Linked DNA regions of Homo sapiens: region 1 is linked to region 2. The links come from fine-mapping of genetic effects on gene expression. A gene starts in region 2. The other region holds a variant in brackets. All regions are shown on one strand. Distances are from middle to middle.

Region 1 (11,482 bases), 58 kb after region 2:
TCCCAAAGTGCTGGGATTACAGACATGAGCACCGCACCTGGCTAATTTTGGAATTTTTTACAAAAAAACTAGATTTTGTTTCTGCTGCCACAAATATTAATTATTCCTACTCAAAAGCCTGGCAGCTGTCTGCCCACTGCTGTGTAGAACATATTTATGTGATCACTACTTCGCATGGTAACTCTGAGAGATGGGTGGTTTTATCTCTCGGAGGGACTTGTCCAATGTCATAGAAATACATTATACAGCCAGACTTGATTGTACAAGGCCCAGATATGCATGGATTTCGCTTACCATGGTTTTGTTAAGTAACATCAGTCTCCCAACAACAGGGTTCAAATATCAGTTACTACAGTATGTTAAGTATGAGCAATTACATAAAATATAAACTTCGTTGCCAGCTCGTCAGTGCACAAAGCACTGTGAATAACAAATGTACATGATCAGTGACAAGTTGCGTAATTTCTTTGAAAGTCTGTTATTTCGTTCACTCATGCACAGAAAGGCATGTGGTTGTGTTGCTTCTTGTCTCCCACCATACCGGGCCTCTTGGTAGGTTTTTACAAAGAAAACTAATTCTCAATATTTCTTTCTTTCTCTTTTCTTTTCTTTTTTTTATTGTTGTTGTTGGGGGATGGAGTCTCACTCTGTCACCCAGGCTGGAGTGCAATAGTGTAATCTCAGCTCACTGCAAACTCCGCCTCCCGGTTCCAAGTGATTCTCCTGTCTCAGCCTCCCAAGTAGCTGAGACTACAGGCGCCCACCACCACACCTGGCTAATTTTTGTATTTTTAGTAGAGACAGGGTTTCACCATGTTGACCAGGCTGGTCTCAAACTCCTGACCTCAGGTGATTTGCCCAACTTGGCCTCCCAAAGTGCTGGGATTGTAAGTGTGAGCCACTGCGCCTGGCCTCAATATTTCTAATGTATTAAATTACATAGTACCAGATAAATATTAGTTTTACTATTTTCATTTCCCTGTACATTTCAAACTGAAAGAGTTTTTAATGTTTTGGCAAAAAATTTTGAAAGTCACAGAACAATCATAATTTTTCTCATTGATCATTAAGATTGCTTTGCATGGTATCAGCTTGTATGCTCACTTTTACAGTCTTACACTACTTTGTACTTATGGTATGGTACTTATAGTACTTTTTACTGGGCAAAGCAAGGAGACACACACATGCATACACACATAGCAAATAAATCAGTCTGGCTTGAGAGGAAGATGGTTAGAATAGGACTCAGGCACAGTGGGTTTCTGTGCAGCTATTCACCATTTAGGCAACTTTTCCAAAGTTGCTTAGCTTAGCTTCCCTGGGATAAGTTTTCTGGACAGCAAAATAATGGGTCTTTTTTTTTTTTTGAGACAGAGTCTCGCTCTGTCGCCCAGGCTGGAGTGCAGTGGCACCATCTCGGCTCACTGCAAGCTCCGCCTCCTGGGTTCACACCATTCTCCTGCCTCAGCCTCCTGAGTAGCTGGGACTACAGGCGCCCGCCACCACGCCCAGCTAATTTTTTGTATTTTTAGTAGAGATGAGGTTTCACCCTGTTAGCCAGGATGGTCTCAATCACCTGACCTCGAGATCTGCCCACCTCAGCCTCCCAAAGTGCTGGGATTACAGGCGTGAGCCACCGCGCCCAGCTATAACGGGTCTTAACTGGGACTCTTTCTCTTCTATCCCAGCCAGTCTCACTTCTGCCAGCCAGGCCTAACTTTCATCCCTTAAGAGAGAGAGGGCCACTTGATTCAATATACAACGAAGTAATGAATACTGAATCTATAAGTAAGTCTACCGATATCTGTAAAAGCAGTGAAAAGCAATTTGGTTTCCTAAAAATGTTAACTATAAATATTATTTCCTATCAGTTTGCTGATTTCCTGTAAGTTGGCTGACTTAGCCACAAAGTTAGTTTTCATTCATCTTGACCACACCTGACAGGTCTGTTTCCATGGCTGGGATCCTCTCCCCATGGTTCTTTCTGGTGCTGAAATGCACTTGGGCAACCATGCCCCTTAAATGTGCCTTTATGGGTTAGATGTGGTGGCTCATGTCTGTAATTCCAGCACTTTGGGAGGCTAAAGCAGGAGAATTACTTGAGGTCAGCTGGAGACCAGCCTGGGCAACATAGTGAGACCCCCCTCCCCCTCAATCTCTTTAAAAAAATGTTTTTGGCCGGACACGGTGACTCATGCCTATAATCCCAGCACTTTGGGAGGCCGAGGCAGATGGATCACCTGAGGTTGGGAGTTTGAGACCAGCCTGGCCAACATGGAAAAACCCCCGACTCTACTAAAAATACAAGATTAGCCAGGTGTGGTGGCGCTTGCCTGTAATCCCAGCTACTCAGCAGGCTGAGGCAGGGGAATCGCTTGAACCCAGGAGACAGAGGTTGCAGTGAGCCGAGATGGCGCCATTGCACTCCAGCATGGGCAACCTGAGTGAGACCCTGCCTCAAAAAAAAACAAAAAAAAAAACAAAAAAAAACGGCCAGTCATGGTGGCTTACGCCTGTAATCTCACCACTTTGGGAGGCCAAGGCGGGTGGATCACCTGAGGTCAGGAGTTTAAGACTAGCCTAACCAACATGGTGAAACTCTGTCTCTACTAAAAATACAAAAATTAGCCGGGTGTGGTGGCGGGCGCCTGTAATCCCAGCTACTTGGGAGGCTGAGGCAAAAGAATCGCTTGAACCCGGGAGGTGGAGGAGGTTGCAGTGAGCTGAGATCATGCCATTGCACTCCAGCCTGGACGGCAGCCTGAGACTATCTCAAAAAAAAAAAAAAGAAAAAAAAAAAGAAAAAGAAAATACATGTAGGCCGGGCATGGTGGCTGACGCCTGTAATCCCAGCATTTTGGGAGGCCGACGTGGGCCTATCACTTGAATTCAGTAGTTTGAAACCAGCCTGGCCAACCAATAGTGAAACCCTGTCTCTAATAAAAATTTAAAAATAAGCCAGGCATGGTGGTGCGTGCCTGGAGTCCCAGTTACTTGGGAGGCTGAGGCAGGAGAATCACTAGAACCCAGCAGGGAGGCTGAGGGAGCAGAATCACTAGAATCCAGGAGGCGGAGGTTGCAGTGGGCTGAAATCACACCACTGCACTCCAGCTTGGGTGACAGAGGAGACTGTCTCAAAAAAAAAAAAAAAAAAGAAACCAAAACCAAAAAAACCACAAAATACATGTGAACATGTGCTCACTTCAGCAGCATATATAGTAAGATTAAAATGCACATGAACTCTTACGGAAAAAATATTTCTAGTAGTCAGCAAATACTGAAAATTTATTGAGCTCTGTGCCTGATGGTATAGAAGTTAAGAAGAATTAAACTGTTCTGTCCTTGCTTTTATTTATTTTTTAACGTGTTGGATACCAGCATCCTTGCTTTTTTTTTTTTTGAGACAGAGTCTCGCTCTATCGCCCGGGCTGGAGTGCAGTGGTGCGATGTTGGCTCATTGCAACCTCCGCCTCCTGGGTTCACGTGATTCTTCTGACTCAGCCTCCTGAGTAGCTGGGATTACAGGCATGCACCACCATGACCAGATAATTTTTTATATTTTTAGTAGAGACAGGGGTTCACCATGCTGGCCAGGCTGGTCTCAAACTCCTGACCTCGTGATCTGCCCGCCTCGGCCTTCCAAAGTGCTGGGATTACAGGCGTGAGCCACCGCGCCTGGCCAGCATCCTTGCTTTTTAGAGCGCTTACTGCCAAGCTGAGGGATAAGTCAGATATTATACGTTTTCAGAAAAGAAGACACATGCAGGAGCTGCATGTAATTGGAAACAAACAGAATATTTGAGAATTGAAAAGTTTGATTAAATCACACAGCAATGAAATATAAAGACTAATATAAAAATAGCACATTTCCAATCAATCCTTATCTGAAATAAATGTATATTGTGCACCTGTTAGGAACCCTATACTGTACTAAAAACTAAATTAAAACCAACCACATTAAGCCCTTGAAGCAAAGTCAGAGCAAACCCTCCTGAAGCCTATGGAGCAGCGCTCCTTCACCCTCCGTTTCAGATATCAAGTCCCTGTGCTGTTCATAAATGAGACAACCTTACAATAAGCTGCTTTCAATTCATAGACATTGGGTCAGTGCCTTTGGTGTGAAGTCATCCATGTTAGGGTACAATTTCATGAGTCGACAAACGGAGTTAGAGTAAGCTCCCTATGCCTCCATTCTGAGAAATTTTGCATCCACAGAGTAAAAGTCGATGGATAGCATATTAGGAGGCTGCATTTTTCTTCTATACTTTTTTTTTTTTTAGACAGAGTCTCACTCTGTTGCCTAGCCTGGAGTGCAGTGACGCAATGTTGGATCACTGTAACCTCTGCCTTCTGGGTTCAAGCGATTCTACTGCCGCAGCCTCCTGAGTAGCTGGGATTATAGGCATGTGCCACCACGCCTGGCTAATTTTTGTATTTTTAGTAAAGTTGGGGTTTTACCATGTTGGCCAGGCTGGTCTCGAACTCCTGACCTCAAGTGATCCACTCACCTCAGCCTCCCAGAATGTTGGGATTACAGGCATGAGCCACTGCGCCCGGCCTCTTCTATACATATTAGTAAAACTCCCACAGCATACTGCAGCATATTGTGAAATAACAGAATAATAAGCAAGGCTTGTCAGATAAAGGGGTTCCAACCCTTCAGGGTAAGTCAAGAAAGGCAGTACCTTAGCATACAGACTGAGCAACAGGTCAGGTTTAAGATAGGACTTCCATTGTTCTGTCTCAGACTAGAGCTCATTGTATGATACAGGGGCCATTTAGCCATGAAAAGTTGTTGAGCACCTGAAATGTGGTTAGTTTGGCCAGGCGCGGTGGCTCACGTCTATAATCCCAGCACTTTGGGAGGCCAAGGCTGGCGGATGACGTGATCAGGTGATCGAGACCATCCTGGCTAACATGGTGAAACCATGTCTCTACTAAAAATACAAAAAATTAGCCAGGCGTGGTGTCACGCACCTGTAGTCCCAGCTACTCGGGAGGCTGAGGCCGGAGAATCACTTGAACCCGGGAGGCAGCGGTTGCAGTGAGCCGAGATCGCACCACTGCACTCCAGCCTGGGTGAAAGAGCGAGATTCTGTCGCGAAAAAAAAAAGAAATGTGGTTAGTGCCACTGAGAGGCTGACTTTTTATTTTATTGTATTGTATTATTTTTTGAGCCAGGGTCTTGCTTTGTCTGTAATCCCAGCACTTTGGAAGGCTGGGGTGGGTGGATCACCTGAGGTTGGGAGTTCGAGACCAGCTTGGTCAACATGGTGAAACCCCGTCTCTATTACAAATACAAAAATGAGCCAGGTGTGGTGGCATGCGCCTGTAATCCCAACTACTAGGGAGCCTGAGGCAGGAGAACTGCTTGAACCCAGGAGGCAGCGGTTGCAGTGAGCCAAGATGGTGCCACTGCACTCCAGCCTGGGCAACACAGCAAGACTCCGTCTCAGAAAGAAAAACAACAATAAACTCCACTGTATGTATATACCACATTTTGTTCATCCATTCATCTAACCAGTGGACACTTGACTCACCTCTATCTTTTGACTATTGTAAATAATGCTGCTATGAAGATGAACATACAATATCTGAGTTTCTGCTTTGAATTCTTTTGCATATATACCCAAAAGTGGTACTGCTGGATCGTATGTATGGTAATTCTGTTTCCTGAGGATCTGCCAGAACTCTTTTCCATAGTGCTGCACCATTTTACATTTCTATCAACAGTACATAGAGCTGACATTTCTTCATGTCCTTGCCTTAAATTTAAAAACAAATACTCATTCAGTTATTAGAAGA[CT/C]TTTTTTTTTCCTTTTGAGACAAGAGTTTTGCTCTTGTTGCCCAGGCTGGAGTGCAATGGCATGATCTCGGCTCACTGCAACCTCTGCCTCATGGGTTCAAGTGATTCTCCTGCCTCAGCTTCCTTAGTAGCTGGGATTACAGGTGCCCACCACCACGCCCAGCTAATTTTTTTGTATTTTTAATAGAGACAGGGTTTCACTATGTTGGCCAGGCTGGTCTCGAACTCCTGATCTCAGGCAATCCACCCGCCTCGGCCTCCCAAAGTGCTGGGATTACAGGCATGAGCCACTGCGCCCGGCCTAGAAGACTTTTAAGTATGTTTAGAACAACTTGGGTATGTGAATCTACTTTTTCAACTATTATTTTATTTTATTTTTGAGACAGAGTGTTGCTTTGTCGCCAGGCTGGAGTGCAGTGGCCTGATCTCGGCTCACTGCAATCTCCACCTCCAAGGTTCAAGCGATTATCCTGCCTCACCTTCCTGAGTAGCTGGGACTGCAGGCACCCACCACCATGTCCAGCTAATTTTTGTATTTTTAGTAGAGACGGGGTTTCACCATATTGGCCAGGAAGGTCTCGATCTCTTGACCTCGTGATCTGCCCGCTTCGGCCTCCCAAAGTGCTGGGATTACAGGCTTGAGCCACTGCACCCAGCGTCAACTATTATTTTTATGGATTCTAAATAAAAATTAAGTATACCCAGGAAGATATAGCATATGCATTGAGATGTGCTGTAATACCAGGTTTCAAAGACAATACAGAAAAAAAGAATGTCAAATGTCTCATGGATAACTTTATTAATCACATGTGAAATATAATAGTTTGGATATATTGAATCAAATAAAATATTAACATTAATTTCACCCGTTTCTTTTTACTTTTATAAATGCAGCTAGTAGCAATTTTTTTTTTTTTTTGAGACAGAGTCCTGCTCTGTCGCCCAGGCTAGAGTGCAGTGGCGCGGTCTCGGCTCACCACAACCTCCGCCTCCTGGGTTCAAGCAATTCTCCTGCCCCAGCCTACGGAGTAGCTGGGATTACAGGCATGCGCCACCATGCCTGGCTAATTTTATATTTTTAGTAGAGACAGGGTTTCTCCATGTCAGTCAGGCTAGTCTTGAACTCCTGACCTCAGAGGATCCACCCACCTCTGCCTCCTACAGTGCTGGGATTACAGGCGTGAACCACTGTGCCTGGCTGGCTTATGTATTTCTATATTCTATTCTACAGCACTGCTACAGAGGTAGCCTCCACTCATACCACATAATTATGAAAGCCATCAGATTCTGGAAGACAGACTCCAAGCTGCAATTGCTGTAAGTCAAGTAATCCCTCTTCTCCCTCTTTTCTGCCCTTAACATGCACATTTATTTTCCTTTTATTATTGGATTCCCTGAATGGAAACATCTGTCCACTATTACTGCAGAAGGCTGGGCTGTCCCATGGTGACTGTCTGGTGTCCAGGCTTGAGTACCCTATTTTCTGTTTTGTTGGTTGTCCTGTACAGTGTTGATTAATTTCTGTGTCTGGGGAAGTCTAGGAGTAGGGGATGGGGCTGGGTGATGCTGACAACACCAAGAAAAGCTCAGGAGATGTGTCAATGTGTTTGCAGAGTCTAAAGAGATACCTTCCTTCCTTCTCTTTTGATTTGACAATGCCGCCTTACCAAAACTTTTCCTGTTCCTCCTGCAGATTTGTGGGTTTTATTTTTTATAGAGACAGGGTCCCACTGTGTTGCCCAGGCTGGTCTCAAACTCCTGGGCTTAATTGATCCTCCTGCCTCAGCCTCCCAAAGTGCTAGGATTATAGGTGTAAGCCACCACACTCAGCCACATTTGGGGTTTTAAATTTAATTTTATATTTATTTTAATTAATTATTTTGAGATAGAGTCTTACTCTGTTGCCCAGGCTGTAGTGCAGTGGCATGATCATGGCTCACTGTAGCCTCAACGTCCTGGGCTCAGGTGATCTTTCCACCTCAGCCTCCTGAGTAGCTGGGACCACCAGCACTTGCTACCACACCTAGCTAATTTTTTTGTATGTTTTCTGTAGAGACGGGTTTTAGCCATGTTCCCAGCCTGTTTTAGCTTATTAAAAAAAATTTTTTTTTTTTGAGACGGAGTTTTGCTCTTGTTGCCCAGGCTGGAGTGCAGTGGCGTGATCTCAGCAATTCTCTGCCTCAGCTTCTCGATTAGCTGGGATTACAGGTGCCCGCCACCACACCAGGAAAATTTTTGTATTTTTTATAGAGACAGGGTTTCACCATCTTGGCCAGGCTGGTCTTGAACTCCTGACCTCATGATCCACCTGCCTCAGCCTCCCAAAGTGCTGGGATTACAGGCGTGAGCCACCGCACCTGGCCTAAAATTTTTTTTTTTAGAGACAGGGTCTCACTACGTTGCTTAGGCTGGTCTTAAAGTTCCAGGCTCAAATGATTCTCTCACCACAGCCTCCTGAGTAGCTGGGATTACACGCATCAGCCCCTGTGCCTGGCTACATCTGTGGTTCTTTTTTTTTTTTTTTTTTTGAGATGGGGCCTCCCTATGTTGCAATGGCACGATCTCAGCTCACTGCAACATCTGCCTCCCAAGTTCAAGCGATTCTCTCACCTCTGCCTCCCCAGTAGCTGGGACTACAGGCTTGCGCCACTATGCCCAGCTAATTTTTGTATTTTTTTTTTTTTTGAGACAGAGTCTCGCACTGTTGCCTAGGCAGTGGCGTGATCTCGGTTCACTGCAACCTCTGCCTCCCAGGTTCAAGCGATTTTCCCACCTCAGCCTGCCGAGTAGCTGGGATTACAGGCGCCTGCCACCATGCCTGGCTAATTTTTTTTTGTTTTTTGAGGCGGAGTCTTGCTGTGTTGCCCAGGCTGGAGTGCAGTGGCGCAATCTCGGCTCACTGCAAGCTCCGCCTCCCGGGTTCACGCCATTCTCCTGCCTCAGCCTCCCGAGTAGCACTTTGGGAGGCCGAGGTGGGCAGATCACCTGAGGTCAGGAGTTTGAGACTAACCTGGCGAACATGGCAAAACCCCATCTCTACTAAAAATAAAAAAATTAGCTGGGTGCAGTGGCTCGCGTCTGTAATCCCAGCACTTTGGGAGGCCAAAGCAGGAGGATCACTTAAGCTCAGGAGTTCAAGACCAGCCTGGGCAACATGGTGAAACCTTGTCTCTACTAAAAATGCAAAAATGAGCCAGGCGTGGTGGTGTGTGCCTGTAGTCCCAGCTACTTGGGAGGATGAGGCAGGAGAATCGCTTGAACCTGGGAGGCAGAGGTTGCAGTGAGTCAAGATCACACCCCAGCACTCTAGCCTGGACAACATAGCAAGACTCAGTGTCCAAAAAAAAAAAAAAAAAAAGAAATGTTTGTTTTGGCCAGATGCAGTGGCTCACAGCTGTAATCCCAGCACTTTGGGAGGCCAATGCAGGAGGAGGATCACTTGAGCCCAGGAGTTAGAGACCAGCCTAGGTAACATAGCAAGTCTGTGTCTCTCCAAAAAAATTTAAAAATCAGCTGGGTGTGGCTAGGAACGGTGGCTCAACCCTGTAATCCCAGCACTTTGGGAGGCCAAGAAGGACAGATCATGAGGTCAGGAGTTTGAGACCAGTCTGGCCAACATAGTGAAACCCCCTCTCTACTAAAAACACAAAAAGTTAGCCGGGTGTGGTGGTGTGCGCCTGTAATCCCAACTACTCCGGAGGCTGAAGCAGGAGAATCCCGTGAACCTGGGAGGTGGAGGTTGCAGTGAGCCGAGATCGCACCATTGCACTCCAGCCCGGGAGACAGTGCGAGACACCATCTCAAAAAAAAAAAAAAAAAAAAATCAGCTGGGTGTGGTGGTGACCCCCTGTCGTCCCAGCTACCGGGAGGCTGAGAGGCTGAGGTGGGAAGATTGCTTGAGCTGTCAAGGCTGCAGCGAGCTGAGATCCTGCCACTGCACTCCTGGCTAGGGGATGGTGCAAGACCCTGTCTCAAAGAGTTAAAAAAAAAAAGAAAGAAAAATTTATTTTGATTTTTCATTAGAGTATAGGCTCTGAAGTTTCATTTGTGCATATGAGTTACGTATCCTTCATATATAAGTGTATCTATATTTGCCGTGTCTACCAGTCAGACTACAAAAGGCATACATATGGTGGAATGATGATTTGCTATTTCAGTGAATGCATATATTCCTCACTGTGAACTAGTTATTATTTGGGGCTGTTAGTTGCTGCAATGAGACATCACACCTCTGAAACCATGGGGTGTCTTAGGAGACTTGTTAGAGGGCTTGTTATACCATTTGGACTTGTGGCTGGTGATTTTGGGGAGGGTCCAAGGACAGGGGTGTGTTTTGGATTGGTGCTGTACTAACAGGGGCAACTCAAAGATTATTATTATTTTTTTTTTTGAGATGGAGTCTCGCTTTTTCACCCAAGCTGGAGTGCAGTGGCGCGATCTCGGCTCACTGCAGGCTCCGCCCCGCGGGGTTCACGCCATTCTCCTGCCTCAGCCTCCCGAGTAGCTGGGACTACAGGCGCCCGCCACCTCGCCCGGCTAATTTTTTGTATTTTTAGTAGAGACGGGGTTTCACCGTGTTAGCCAGGATGGTCTCGATTTCCTGACCTCGTGATCCGCCCGCCTCGGCCTCCCAAAGTGCTGGGATTACAGGCGTGAGCCACCGCGCCCGGCCACTCAAAGATTATTTCAACAATTTTAGGTGGGGCGCGGTGGCTCATGCCTGTAATCCCAGCACTCTGGGAGGCCGAGGCAGGCGATCACTTGAGGTCAGGAGTTTGAGACCAGCCTGGCCAACCTGGTGAAACCCCATCTCTACTAGGTGGCAGGTGCCTGTAATCCCAGCTATTCGAGAGGCTGAGACAGGAGAATTGCTTGAACCTGGGAGGCAGAGGTTGCAGTGAGCCGAAATTGTGCTACTTCACTCCAGCCTGGGCGACAGAGCAAGACTCCTTCTCAAAAAAAAAAAAAAAAAATTTTTTTTAAATCCAGAAAGCAGGAGGAATAGAGAGGAGCTAAAGCTGTCATTGGAGAAAAAGCAGTAATTACTCATGCTAGCTGAAGAAGGGATGTTTATTCTTCTGTGTGTGTGGTTGCGCAGTGCCAGTTTTTATTTATGCAGGCAAGATCACTGATCGGAATTATTTTCTCCTTCCCTCAGTCACAGAAAGAACTCGTCTGATATCAATTTTCTGTGAACCTGTTTATGTTCATCAAGTAATCCAGGCCAGCTACCGTGGGTCTCAGGGCTTTTTTTTTTTTTTTTTTTTTTTTTTGGGACAGAGTCTCGCTCTTGTTGCCCAGGCTGGAGTGCAATGGCGAGATCTCGGCTCACAGCAACCTCTGCCTCCCGGGTGCAAGCTATTCTCCTGCCTCAGCCTCCCGAATAACTGGGATCACAGGCATGTGCCACCACACCCAGCTAATTTTGAATTTTTAGTAGAGTTGGAGTTTCACCATGTAGGCCAGACTGATCTTAAACTCCTGATCTCAGGTGATCCACCCGCCTTGGCCTCCCAATGTGTTAGGATTACAGGCGTAAGCCACCACGCCCGGGCTTTTTATTTTTTTTCTTAATGATGCTGCACCTAATCACATTTAGGTGGCAGGCAAAAGAATATTGCTTAGCTGCTTTGCTACAGAAATGACAACTCTTGGGCAGGGGCGCGGTGGCTCACG
Region 2 (11,482 bases):
GGAGACCATGGCACCCAGAGAGGCCACACCATAAAAAGCACAGCAAGGCTGGGTGCAGTAGCTCATGCCTGTAATCCCAGCACTTTCGGGTGGATCACCTGAGGTCAGGAGTTTGAGACCAGCCTGACCAATATGGTGAAACCCAGTCTCTACCAAAATTACAAAAATTAACCTGGCATGGTGGCATGCGCCTGTAGTCCCAGCTACTCTGGAGGCCGAGGCAGGAGAATCGCTTGAACCCGGGAAGCGGAGGTTTCAGTGAGTCAAGATCATGCCACTGCACTCTAGCCTGGGCAACAGAGCGAGACTCCATCTCAAAAAAAAAAAAAAAAAAAAAAAAGCACAGTGAGGCGGCTGCCCTAGGCAGTGAGGGTGTCGCCATCCAGCCACCAGGCTGGGGTCCTGACCTCACCATCCACCCTACATGTGACATGGGGCAAGTCACTCAACCTTTCTCTTCCTCAGTTTTCTCACCCTTAAAGTGGGGATTGTGAAAATAAAGTTTACAACACCTAAAACACTTTAAGCTTTAAGAGAGATGTGACTATGATCTGAATCACATAACATTTCACAAGTCTGCTTCTTCTTTTTTTGAGACGGAGTCTCGCTCTGTTGCTCAGGCTGGAGTGCAGTGGCGCGATCTCAGCTCACTGCAAGCTCCGCCTCCTGGGTTCACGCTGTTCTCCTGCCTCAGCCTCCCGAGTAGCTGGGACTACAGGCGCCCGCCACCACGCCCGGCTAATTTTTTGTATTTTTAGTGGAGACGGGGTTTCACCGTGTTAGCCAGGATAGTCTCAATCTCCTGACTATATATATATATATATCTCATCCCATATATATATATATCTCATCCCATATATATATATATATACACACACACACGCACGCACACACACACAGGGTTTCACCCTGTCACTCAGGCTGGAGTGCAGTGGCGAGATCTCAGCTCACTGCAGCCTCTGCTTCCTAGGCTCAAGCTATCCTCCTGCCTCAGCCTCCCAAGTAGCTGGGACCACAGGTGTGCACCACCACGCCTGGCTAATTTTTTCTATTTTTGGTAGAGATAGGGTTTCACCATGTTGTCCAGGCTGATTCCATATGTTTTAATTTAAAAAATGAATAAATTGGCTGAGAGGAGTGGCTCACCACTATAATTCCAGCACTTTGGGAGTCCAAGGCAAGAGACCAAGAGTTCAAGATCAGCCTGGGCAACATAGTGAGACCTAGCCTTCACTTTTTTTTTTTTTGAGACGGAGTCTCGCACTGTTCCCTGGACTGGAGTGCAATGGCTGATCTCGGCTCACTGCAACCTCCACCCACTGGCTTCAAGTGATTCTCCTGCCTCAGCCTTCCGAATAGCTGGGATTACGGGCTCCCGCCACCATGCCCAGCTAATTTTTTGTATTTTTTAGTAGAGACGGGATTTCAGTATGTTGGCCAGGCTGGTCTCAAACTCCTGACCTCGTGATCCTCCCACCTCGGCCTCCCAATGTGCTGGGATTACAGGCGTGAGCTACCACCCCCAGCCTGACTCAGCCTTCATTTTATATACAAATATTTAAATTTTAAATAAATAAAGTGTTAAATAGAACTTCCTCCTAAAGAAAGACTACCTCAACTGATCAGATCATTTTTTTTTTGAGATGGAGTTTCACTCTTGTTGCCCAGGCTGGAGTGCAATGGCGCAATCTTGGCTCACTGCAACCTCTGCCTCCTAGGTTCGAGCAATTCTCCTGCTTCAGCCTCCCAAGTAGCTGGGATTACAGGCATGCGCCACCACGCCCGGCGAATTTTGTGTTTTTAGTAGAGATGGGGTTTCTCCATGTTGGTCAGGCTGATCTCGAACTCCCGACCTCAGGTGATCCACCTGCCTCGGCCTCCTAAAGTGCTAGGATTACAGACGTGAGCCACCACACTCGGCCCAGATCATTATAACTATGCATTAAACCTTAAATTTTAAAAGTTAAAATTCAGCCAGCGGCAGTGGGTGGCTCACATCTGTAATCCCAACACTTTAGGCAGCCAAGGGAAGTGAATCACTAGAGCCCAGAAGTTTGAGACCAGCCTGGGCAACATGGCAAAACTGTCTCTACCAAAAAAAATACAAAAATTAGCCTGGCGTGGTGGCGTGCACTTGTAGTCCCAGCTACGCAGGAGGGTGAGGCAGGAGAATTGCTTGTTCCAGAAGGTCGAGGCTGCAGAGAGCCATGACTGTATCATTGCACTTCAGCCTGGGCGACAGAGGGAGACCCTGTCTCAAAAAAGATTAAAAAAACAGCTAAAATCCTGTTAAACGTTCCTAAACTGTGTCTATATAAACGATCCCAGGCCAGGCACGGTGGCTCATGCCTGTAATCCCAGCACTTTCGGAGTCCGAGGCAGGTGGATCACTTGAGGTCAGGAGTTTGAGACCAGCCTGGTCAAAGTAGTGAAACACTGTCTCTACTAAAAATAGAAAAAATTAGCTGGGCATGGAGGCTCGGGCCTGTAATCTCAGCTACTCAGGAGGCTGAGGCACAAGAATCACTTGAACCCAAAAGGCGGAGGTTATAGTGAGCAGAGATCGTGCCACTGCACTCTAGCTTGGGCAACAGAATGACTCTGTCTCAACAGAATGAGACTCTGTCTCAAAAAAATAAAAATAAAATAAATGATCCCAAACTTCTACATTTTACGTATTTATTGTGAGACAGGTCTCCCTCTGTCACCCAGGCTGGAGTGCAGTGGTGCTTTCTGGGCTCACAGCAGCCTTGACCTCCCATGCTGAAGCGATCCTCCCACCTCTGCTGGAGTATAGGTGTGTGCCACCACGCCAGGCTGTTTGTTCTATTTTTTTTTGTAGAGATGGGGTCTCGCTATGTTGCCCAGACTGGTCTCAAACTCCTGGGCTCAAGTGATCTGCCCACCTTGGCCTCCCAGAGTGTCAGGATTTAACCCCCACACTCCACCGAGACTTTAAAACTCTGACTTCCATTCTTCTCTTTTTTTCTTTTTTAAGATGGAGTCTCGCTCTGTCGCTGAGGCTGGAGTGCGGTGGCACGATCTCAGCTTACTGCAACCTCCGCCTCCCAGGTTCAAGCGATTCTCCTGCCTCAGTTTCCCAAGTAGCTGGGACTACAGGAGCGCGCCACCACGCCCGGCTAATTTTTGTATTTTTAGTAGAGACGGGGTTTCACCTTGTTGGCCAGGCTGGTCTTGAACTCCTGATCTCATGTTCTGCCCTCCTCAGCCTCCCAAAGTGCTGGGATCACAACCGTGAGCCACCGCCCCCAGCCATGACTTCCATTCTTTACCATCCTTACTTCCTGAGCAGGCCATCCTTAACCTTTACACTTAAATAAACTCCTTTAAACTAAAATCTAACCTGTTTGACTATTGTAGATTGACAGGCTAATGAGAGTATGAACCTCCAAAGACTTCTGTGAGGGCTAGGTGCAGTCATATATGCAATGAACTCAAGTAAACAGCTGGCTGAGGAAACACCGGGACGCCTCCTCTGTGCTAAGCCCCATGCAGCATGCACACAGACACAGGCCCACCTCAGCCTCCCAAAGTGCTGGGGTTACAGGCGTGAGCCGCCTTTCCCAACCAATATTTTATATTTTTACACAAGTGACAGCATCCTATTCAGACTGCCCTATACTTTTTTTCCACTTAAAAGTATGTCTGGGCCAGACATAGTGTCTCACACCTGTAATCCCAGCATTTTGGGAGGCCGAGGCAGTGGATCGCCTGAGGTCAGGAGCTCGAGACCAGCCTGCTCAACATAGCGAAATCCCATCTCTACTAAAAATACAAAAATTAGCTGGGCACAGTGGTGTGTGCCGGTAATCCCAGCTACTCGGGAGGCTGAGACAGAATTGCTTGAACCTGGGAGGTGGAGGTTGTGGTGTGCCAAGATCGAGCCACTGCACTCCAGCTTGGGCGACAGAGCGAAATTCCAGCTCAAAAATAAATATATAAATAAACAAACAAACCAACTAAACCATCATTGCCCTCCCCAGCCCTCCCAGCCCAGAGACCCCCATCCCTTGTCAGCCATCCCCCCTTACCTTCTGGACAGGGACAAGTGTCCCTCATTTGGAAAAGAATTAAGGAGGGGTAACAGCAGACTAGGGAGGCCTGGGGTCCTCCACACGCCTGTGTGGGGTGACTTTGGCCCCCAGCAACAAGGCAGGCCTGAGGTCTGCAGAGGGAGGCAGCCCACTCCTCAGCCGGGGGCGTCTATCCTCCTCCTGGCCCCATCCCTCACCTGTGGGGGAGGCTAAGTGGGTGTCAGGGCCCTGTCAGAGGGTGAGCCACCCCCGGGGGTGCCCATCGGCCACCAGCCTCCCTTCAGTAGACACCCAGCCCAAGTGACAGCAGTGGCATGGCACTGCTGAGCACAGGGAGCCTCAAGGTCAGTGCCTGGCTCCTGGTATCCTCCGTGGTCCCCAGGACACCCCCACACAGAGGTCCCAGAACCCCCAAAGCTGGCACAAGAGCCCAGGAACACCCTGCCCAGCACCCTCCAGGTCCCTCTTTTAGGATCTGGGTGAGCTAAAGAAGCCAAAAGAAAGGCTGGGCGCGGTGGCTCACGCTTGTAATCCTAGCACTTTGGGAGGCCGAGGTGGGCGGATTGCCTGAGCTCAGGAGTTGGAGACCAGCCTGGGCAACACATTGAAACCCCATCTCTACTAAAATACAAAAAAAATTAGCCAGGTGTGGTGGCGTGCACCTGTAGTCCCAGCTACTCGGGAGCCTGAGGCAGGGGAATTGCTTGAACCCAGGAGGCAGAGGTTGCAGTGAGCTGAGATTGCATCACTGCACTCCAGCCCGGGTGACAGAGTGAGACTCCATCTCAAAAAAAGAAAAAAAAAAAAAAAAAAAAAAAAAAAAGAAGCCAAAAGAGGGTCTTCGGCCCAGCCCGCCCCTCCCCAACAGCCCTGGGTGTGGCAGGGAGCCTGACCAGTTCCCTCCAGCCTGCGTCATGGAGCCCTGGGCGTGGCTGCAGGGTTTAAAGAGCCGACCCACGTGCCCAGCAGCCTCCTCAGATCCGTTCTCTGCGCTGCCAGCTCAGGTGAGCCCTCGCCAAGGTGACCTCGCAGGTGAGCAGGCGTCCACTTTGGGGCTGCTGGGTGAAGGGGGTGGGTGCCCAAGAATTCTGAGTAATGAGGAGCCTGTTGAGGGGTCTGAGGACAGATATGGCTGCAGCAGCCGCTTGAAGGCCTCCTGCTTTGCACCCACTATCATATGGATGGTGGGTTGGGGGTTGGAGGAAACAGAAGCCAGCCCTTGGCTAAAGAATATATGAGCTGGTGGGGTATACCTCTGGTCCCAACTGCTTGAGATACTCAGGTGAGGAGATCACCTGAGCCAAGAGAGTTCAAGGCTGCAGTGAGCCGAGATCACGCCACTGCTCTCCATCCTGGGTAACAGAGCAAGACCCTGTCTCAAAAAAAAAAAAAATAGTAATAATAATAATAATAAAATAAAAAATGTGACCTAGAGTTGAGACCCTCGTATTCCAGGAACTCCAGGTTGGTGAAGGTAGAGAGACCAGTGAAGGCTGGGGGAAGCCAGCTTTGGAGACTGCTCCTAGCCCAAGAACCGATGTTCAGAAGCAGTGCCTAACAGTCTCTCCCTCCAGTGCCTCCCTCCCACTGCAGAAGGACCATGTGTTTATTTATGGATGTATTTATTTATTTATTTTGAGATGGAGTCTCCCTCTGTTGCCCAGGCTGGAGTGCAGTGCCAGGATCTCGGCTCACTGCAACCTCCACCTTCCAGGTTTAAGTGATTCTCCTGCCTCAGCTTCCCAAGTAGCTGGGAATACAGGCGCCTGTCACCACACTCAGCTAATTTTTGTATTTTTAGTATAGATGGGGTTTTGCCATGTTGGCCAGGCTGATCTTGAACTCCTGACCTCAGGTGATCCACCCGCCTCAGCCTCCCAAAGTGCTGGGATTATAGGTGTGAGCCACTGCGCCCGGCCTATGGATGTATTTATTGTAACAGGTTTTTAGTGCTTACTGTGTGCTAGGCATAGTTCTTAGGCTTGACAAATAGTAGTTCACGTAATTCCATCGCTATAACCTTATGAGGTTGCTACTATTCTGATGATCCTCCTTTTACAGGACACTGGTGAAGGAGCAGTGAGGAACCTGCAGAGTCACACAGTTGGTAAGTTGCTAAGAAGGGACCCAGCCCAGACAGCTGGCCCTGGATCTGTGATCTCATCAGGAGGCCAGAGCTGGGTACAGCAGATGATGACAATGGCTTCAGTATTGAAAACTTGACCACACTAGGCTAACAATATGCAGAGGGCTGGGAGGGGGCCTGCGCTCAAAGACTCAGCCTCCCTAAGGACAAGTAAATGGGGTCCTGGCTACTTCCAACCTGAGGGGGAAATGTCATACCACAGGAGGTCTATACTCTGAGAGCAGAATCTGGGTCTGCTGGAGTAGGGTCCCCTGCCAGGGCTGGCAGGGGAGGTCCTGGCTGCTGCAGTCATCTCATCCCAGGACTCAGCACTCCCTCCCTCCTCCACACCCTTGCTTTTGTGGAGGCTCTCTGGGAATTCAGACTGAGGGTGCTGGACTCTGGCCACCCCAGGCCCAGACCTTTGGGAACAATAGCCTGGGGCCTGATAACAATGCCCTTTGTGTGGGGTTAGGAAGGCAGGCTCCAGACCCTGACTTAGAATAGCAGCCACCTGACCCTGGGCATCTGATTACACCTCTCTAAGCTCCATTTTTTTTTTTCTTCTCTGAAATAGAGACAATAATAGTATCTTCCTCATGGGGAGGAGTAGGGGGTGGGTTTGTCGCATGGATTTTAACAACGCCTTCTACAGCACTTACTCTGTGCAGGCACAGTTTTGAGCTCTTAGCTTGTGCTTACTCAATCCACACAACTCCCCCAGGCCACCACCATCTCTAGATGGGAAGACAGAAAGTAGTTACTTTCCCAAGATCTCCCCACAAGCAAGTGTATCCTTGGGGTTTGTACACCTACTTTCACCATGGGGCTCTGCCTGCCCCCGCCCCTGCCTCCTCTCGCTGACCAATTGAGCTGTGAGCCTGGAGCAGATCCGTGGGCTGCAGACCCCCGCCCCAGTGCCTCTCCCCCTGCAGCCCTGCCCCTCGAACTGTGACATGGAGAGAGTGACCCTGGCCCTTCTCCTACTGGCAGGTGAGTCCTCCCAGTCTCCTGGGACCCTCTTGCATTCACCCCACCCACAAAGGCAGCAAAAGCCAGACAACATCTCCTTTGGGAGTCTGGTGTTCAATCAGCATGCTTTATTTAAACTGCCAATTTAGAGAGAAACATGAAGGAAATGACAGTACAGGTAGGATGAGAATATTGCAAAAAGGTCCTAATAGCTCCAGAGGAATTGAACCATGGAAAACATTAACCACCTGTGGCTTGAAGACAAAAGCAGGGTGGCACAGCGGCTCAGGCCTGTAATCCCAGTGTTTTGGGAGGCCAAGGTGGGAGGATCACTTGAGCCTGGGAGGATCACTTGAGCCTGGGAGGTCGAGGTTGCAGTGAGCTAGGATTGCACCATTGCACTCCAGCCTGGGTGACAGAGAGAGGTTCCGACTCATAAAAAAGACAAGCATTCCCTGTTTCTTCAGGGGGCAGAGACATAACAAACCATCCCAGTCAGCATGCACACAGGAGCATCAGGAAGCCTGGGACAGCAGGGCTTGGGCGGGGCCACACCCTGAGGCTGTGTGGGGCTGGGGAGGGCGTGAGGAAGGGAACTGGTGGCTCCAGGGTCACCCCACAACCTCCGGGCTGGGGTCCTGCTGTCTGGCTTACTTGGACACCAGTGTCATGAATTCCCACACATTTTCTCTGCTCCTCCCACACAGGCCTGACTGCCTTGGAAGCCAATGACCCATTTGGTGAGTGAGGCCCCCAAACAGCCTGCCCACTCTGCCCACATCTCCCCTCTGACACCCACATCCTGTCTCCTGGTTCTGGTTCTGAAGTCTTTTTGCCCCACTTTTTCTAGCCAATAAAGACGATCCCTTCTACTATGGTAAGAGCTGATATTCCCACCCCCACCCTACCCTTGCCTATCCTGGACCTCTTTGCTAGACAAGTTGGTGAGGGGTAGTGTGGACCTAGTGTAGACAAAGTGGGATGGGGGATTAAACCTGGTCTCTGTGAGAGCGTCGCTCCAACAAGGGGAGGGTGGCCACAGGATGCTTAGGAACCCTCCTGGAGAAGGGCTGGTGCCTGGGTGGTTAGGCACCCCGATAAATCACCCCTACCCTCTTGCCTTCACTCACCCTCACCCTCCCTTTCCCTAGTCCCCAGCCCTCAGGCAGTCCTCCTCTCCTCCTCTCCCCTGGGCCTCAGCTCCAGGACAGCTTTCCTTGATCATCCTTCAAAGCCCTTTCTTTGCGCATGTCCACTTCTTTTTTTTTTTTTTTTTTTTTTTGAGACAGATTCTGACTCTGTCGCCTAGGCTGGAGTACAGTGGCATGATCTCGGGTCACTGCAACCTCCATCTCCCGGGTTCAAGCAATTCTCCTGTCTCAGCCTCTCGAGTAGCTGGGACTACAGGCGCCTGCCGCCACGCCTAGCTAATTTTTGTATTTTTAGTAGAGATGGGGTTTCACCATATTGGTCATGCTGGTCTCGAACTTCTGACCTCAGGTGATCTGCCCGCCTCGGCCTCCCAAAGTGATGGGATTACAGATGTGAGCCACCGCACCCAGCCTCACTTTTTTTCTTCTTAGTGTTTCCCCACGAGACGCAGAATGATGCCTCTGTTGCTGGCTTGTCTTTATGTATATGGCAGCGGCTGGCACAAGCAGGGGCTCAGGAGTGTCTTTTGAATGAATGACTGAGGCCCCAGGCTGGTGCAAGCTCACTCTCTGTACCCACCCCAGACTGGAAAAACCTGCAGCTGAGCGGACTGATCTGCGGAGGGCTCCTGGCCATTGCTGGGATCGCGGCAGTTCTGAGTGAGTGGCAGGACAGGTGGGGCTGGAGGACAGGGTGGGGCTGGCGGACAGGGTGGGGCAGAAAGAGAGAGTGCTCTCATTCCAGCACTGACCCTGGCGCTGACCCCTCTCTCTCTCCCAGGTGGCAAATGCAAATGCAAGAGCAGCCAGAAGCAGCACAGGTGAGCCTGACCCTATGGTGCCCTCCTCCTTCGGGGCAGAACTACGGGGGGACAGTCCTGACCTGGAGAGTGGACAGCATCCTGGCCACTCGCTGGGCTTGCAGCTGGCTTTGTTATTCAGATAGTCAACCCTGAAGGGCCCCAGTCAGGAAAGCTCTGACCTCGGTATTGTGGGAAGTGACCATGGAAGGAGAGCAAGGACTTGCACTCCTGGGGCCGGGCAGCAAGAGTCTGGGATATAGGGGAGAAGGTCCTCCAGGCTAACCTGATACTACTCTGATGTGGTCCTTTCTCTAGTCCTGTACCTGAGAAGGCCATCCCACTCATCACTCCAGGTGAGACGGGCTTCTGTGGGCTGAGGGGGTGTCTGTGTAAGGACTGTGTCTGATGGCCTGCCCGCCACTCTCCGCAGGCTCTGCCACTACTTGCTGAGCACAGGACTGGCCTCCAGGGATGGCCTGAAGCCTAACACTGGCCCCCAGCACCTCCTCCCCTGGGAGGCCTTATCCTCAAGGAAGGACTTCTCTCCAAGGGCAGGCTGTTAGGCCCCTTTCTGATCAGGAGGCTTCTTTATGAATTAAACTCGCCCCACCACCCCCTCCTCGGTAGTCTTGTGATCCATCGTCTTTGGGTCTGGGGGTGGGTAATCCCTTGGATTGCTGACTTTCCCTGGATGCCCACTCCCAGCAAGCTTCCCAGTCCCTGAGTCCCTGCCGCCCAACTGTCTCCTATGGCTCCCACTCCAGCAAGCCCCACAGAGAGACCCATGCACTGTGAGATACCACAGTGTTATAACAGAAGACCTTTCCATTTCCACCACTTGCACGGGGGCCCTAGAAGTCCTGATGCCTCAGGTACCCATGACTTCCTTTAATCTAGAGCGACCCCCAGGGCTCACCCCCCCATTGAGACCTCAATTGAGACCCCCCATTGAGACCTCACCCAGTGAATGCTCTCTATGGTAGAAAATGTAGCAATTCCTTTGACCCATCCCAGTAAAATCCTCAGCTCACCCCATGGGCCCCCCTCCTCCCAGGAAATATCCTGTGAAATTCCATGAAGAAGTATGTCTCGAGAAGCCCTGCATAGTGCATGTGGGAGACAAACACCATGTGTGCAAATCCAAGTTCTTTGGCATGCCTGAACTCCCCTCCAGGAAGACTTCCCTGGCAATGTCCCTGTGGCACCCCAGGCAGGGGTGTGAAGTGCCACTTCTGCCTGGTGCCCATCCTGCAGTCCTGCCCCTTGACAGCCCAGGAGAAGGAACTGAGACCACTTCTAGCCTCTGCCTCCAGCAAAGGCCAGAGAACAATGGAGTCCCCGCCAGGTGGCAGCTCCCAATCTGAGGCCAGGGCTTGGGCTGGGCAGCTGTCTCCAATGATGCACCCTTCCTCCATGTCTCAGGGTGGGCCACATCCTTGAGAAGTATGATGTATCCTAGACTTAGGGTCACCTGCCTTGTGGGTGGGGTCAGAGACTTGTGCAGGGCCCCAGAGGTGTAAAAATGAGGTCCACATGTCTTCCAGGGCCTTTGAAACAGGACACGTAGGGACTGAGAGCAAGGTTCCAAGGTGGGGCTGAGTGGGACTAAAGATACCTGGCTGAGTCCAGCCACTATCAGGGAATCTTGGGTGGGTCACAGAAGGCCTGGCAAGCCCCAGTGCTTTGGGGAAGCTGTCCTGTACCAGCAGCCCCAGGTGGTATGGCCAGCCCAGAGGCAGCGCTGAGTCTGCACAGGTGGACCTAGGGAGGGGCCTGTGCGCAAACCACCCTGGTGGAGGGAATTAGCAGCACGACTGGAATGCAGGCGATAGGATCACTGAGGAGGCAAGGCCCAGCCCTGCAGGACGCAGAGGCAGGGGTGGGAGCCACCCAGCAGGGCTGGTAGAAGGGGGCTCCTGAGCACGCCTCCTCATCCAGGGGGTGCAGTGCAGAGCTCTCTCCTCGTTGGCACGGGAAGACGCTGGTGTGAGAGACTGCTTTTGAGAACATGAAAAGTGCGGTAAGAAAGCCAAGTCTGGAGTGGCAGACCCAGGGGAAGCCACACAAAGGTGACCGGAAGCAGTGCATGCTTTCTGACTGAGGAACCCAGGGCCACGCAGTCACGACTATCAGGAGCTCTGCTGTTTGAAATCCTAGCAAACCCTGTCCTTGCATGGTGGCCCCATGACCCTGACAAGAGATGCAGCCTCAACTTCCAACCCCAGTGCCCCACTGGGGAGCAGAGGTTTCTGGACGTGACAGCCACCCACCTCCACCTTCACATGTATCCTGGGGCCACGTCGTGGTGGAGACCTGCCGCTCTTCTTTCAAGCTCTCATGCTGCTTCATTTAAACTTCTCCTGGACAGGTGTCACA

The links. PIP is the estimated chance that this variant, and not a neighbour inherited with it, causes the effect.
Region 1: its variant is the best candidate, but not a certain one, in a credible set for the expression of FXYD4 in lung (TOPMed, PIP 0.57).

The regions. Positions count from the first base shown.
Region 1 is chr10:43,424,173-43,435,654 of GRCh38, forward strand. No RefSeq gene overlaps it. Among named protein-coding and RNA genes, the nearest start is that of ZNF487, 7.2 kb to the right of the region's middle. The variant CT/C (reference allele first, on the strand shown) is at 5,806.
Region 2 is chr10:43,366,611-43,378,092 of GRCh38, forward strand. It overlaps FXYD4 (FXYD domain containing ion transport regulator 4), which reads left to right and starts at 5,026. Exons shown (of 9, transcript NM_173160.3): 1 at 5,026-5,087; 2 at 6,117-6,162; 3 at 6,905-7,173; 4 at 7,860-7,892; 5 at 8,003-8,029; 6 at 8,889-8,963; 7 at 9,085-9,124; 8 at 9,422-9,459; 9 at 9,537-9,725. The coding sequence starts at 7,137. The coding sequence ends at 9,556.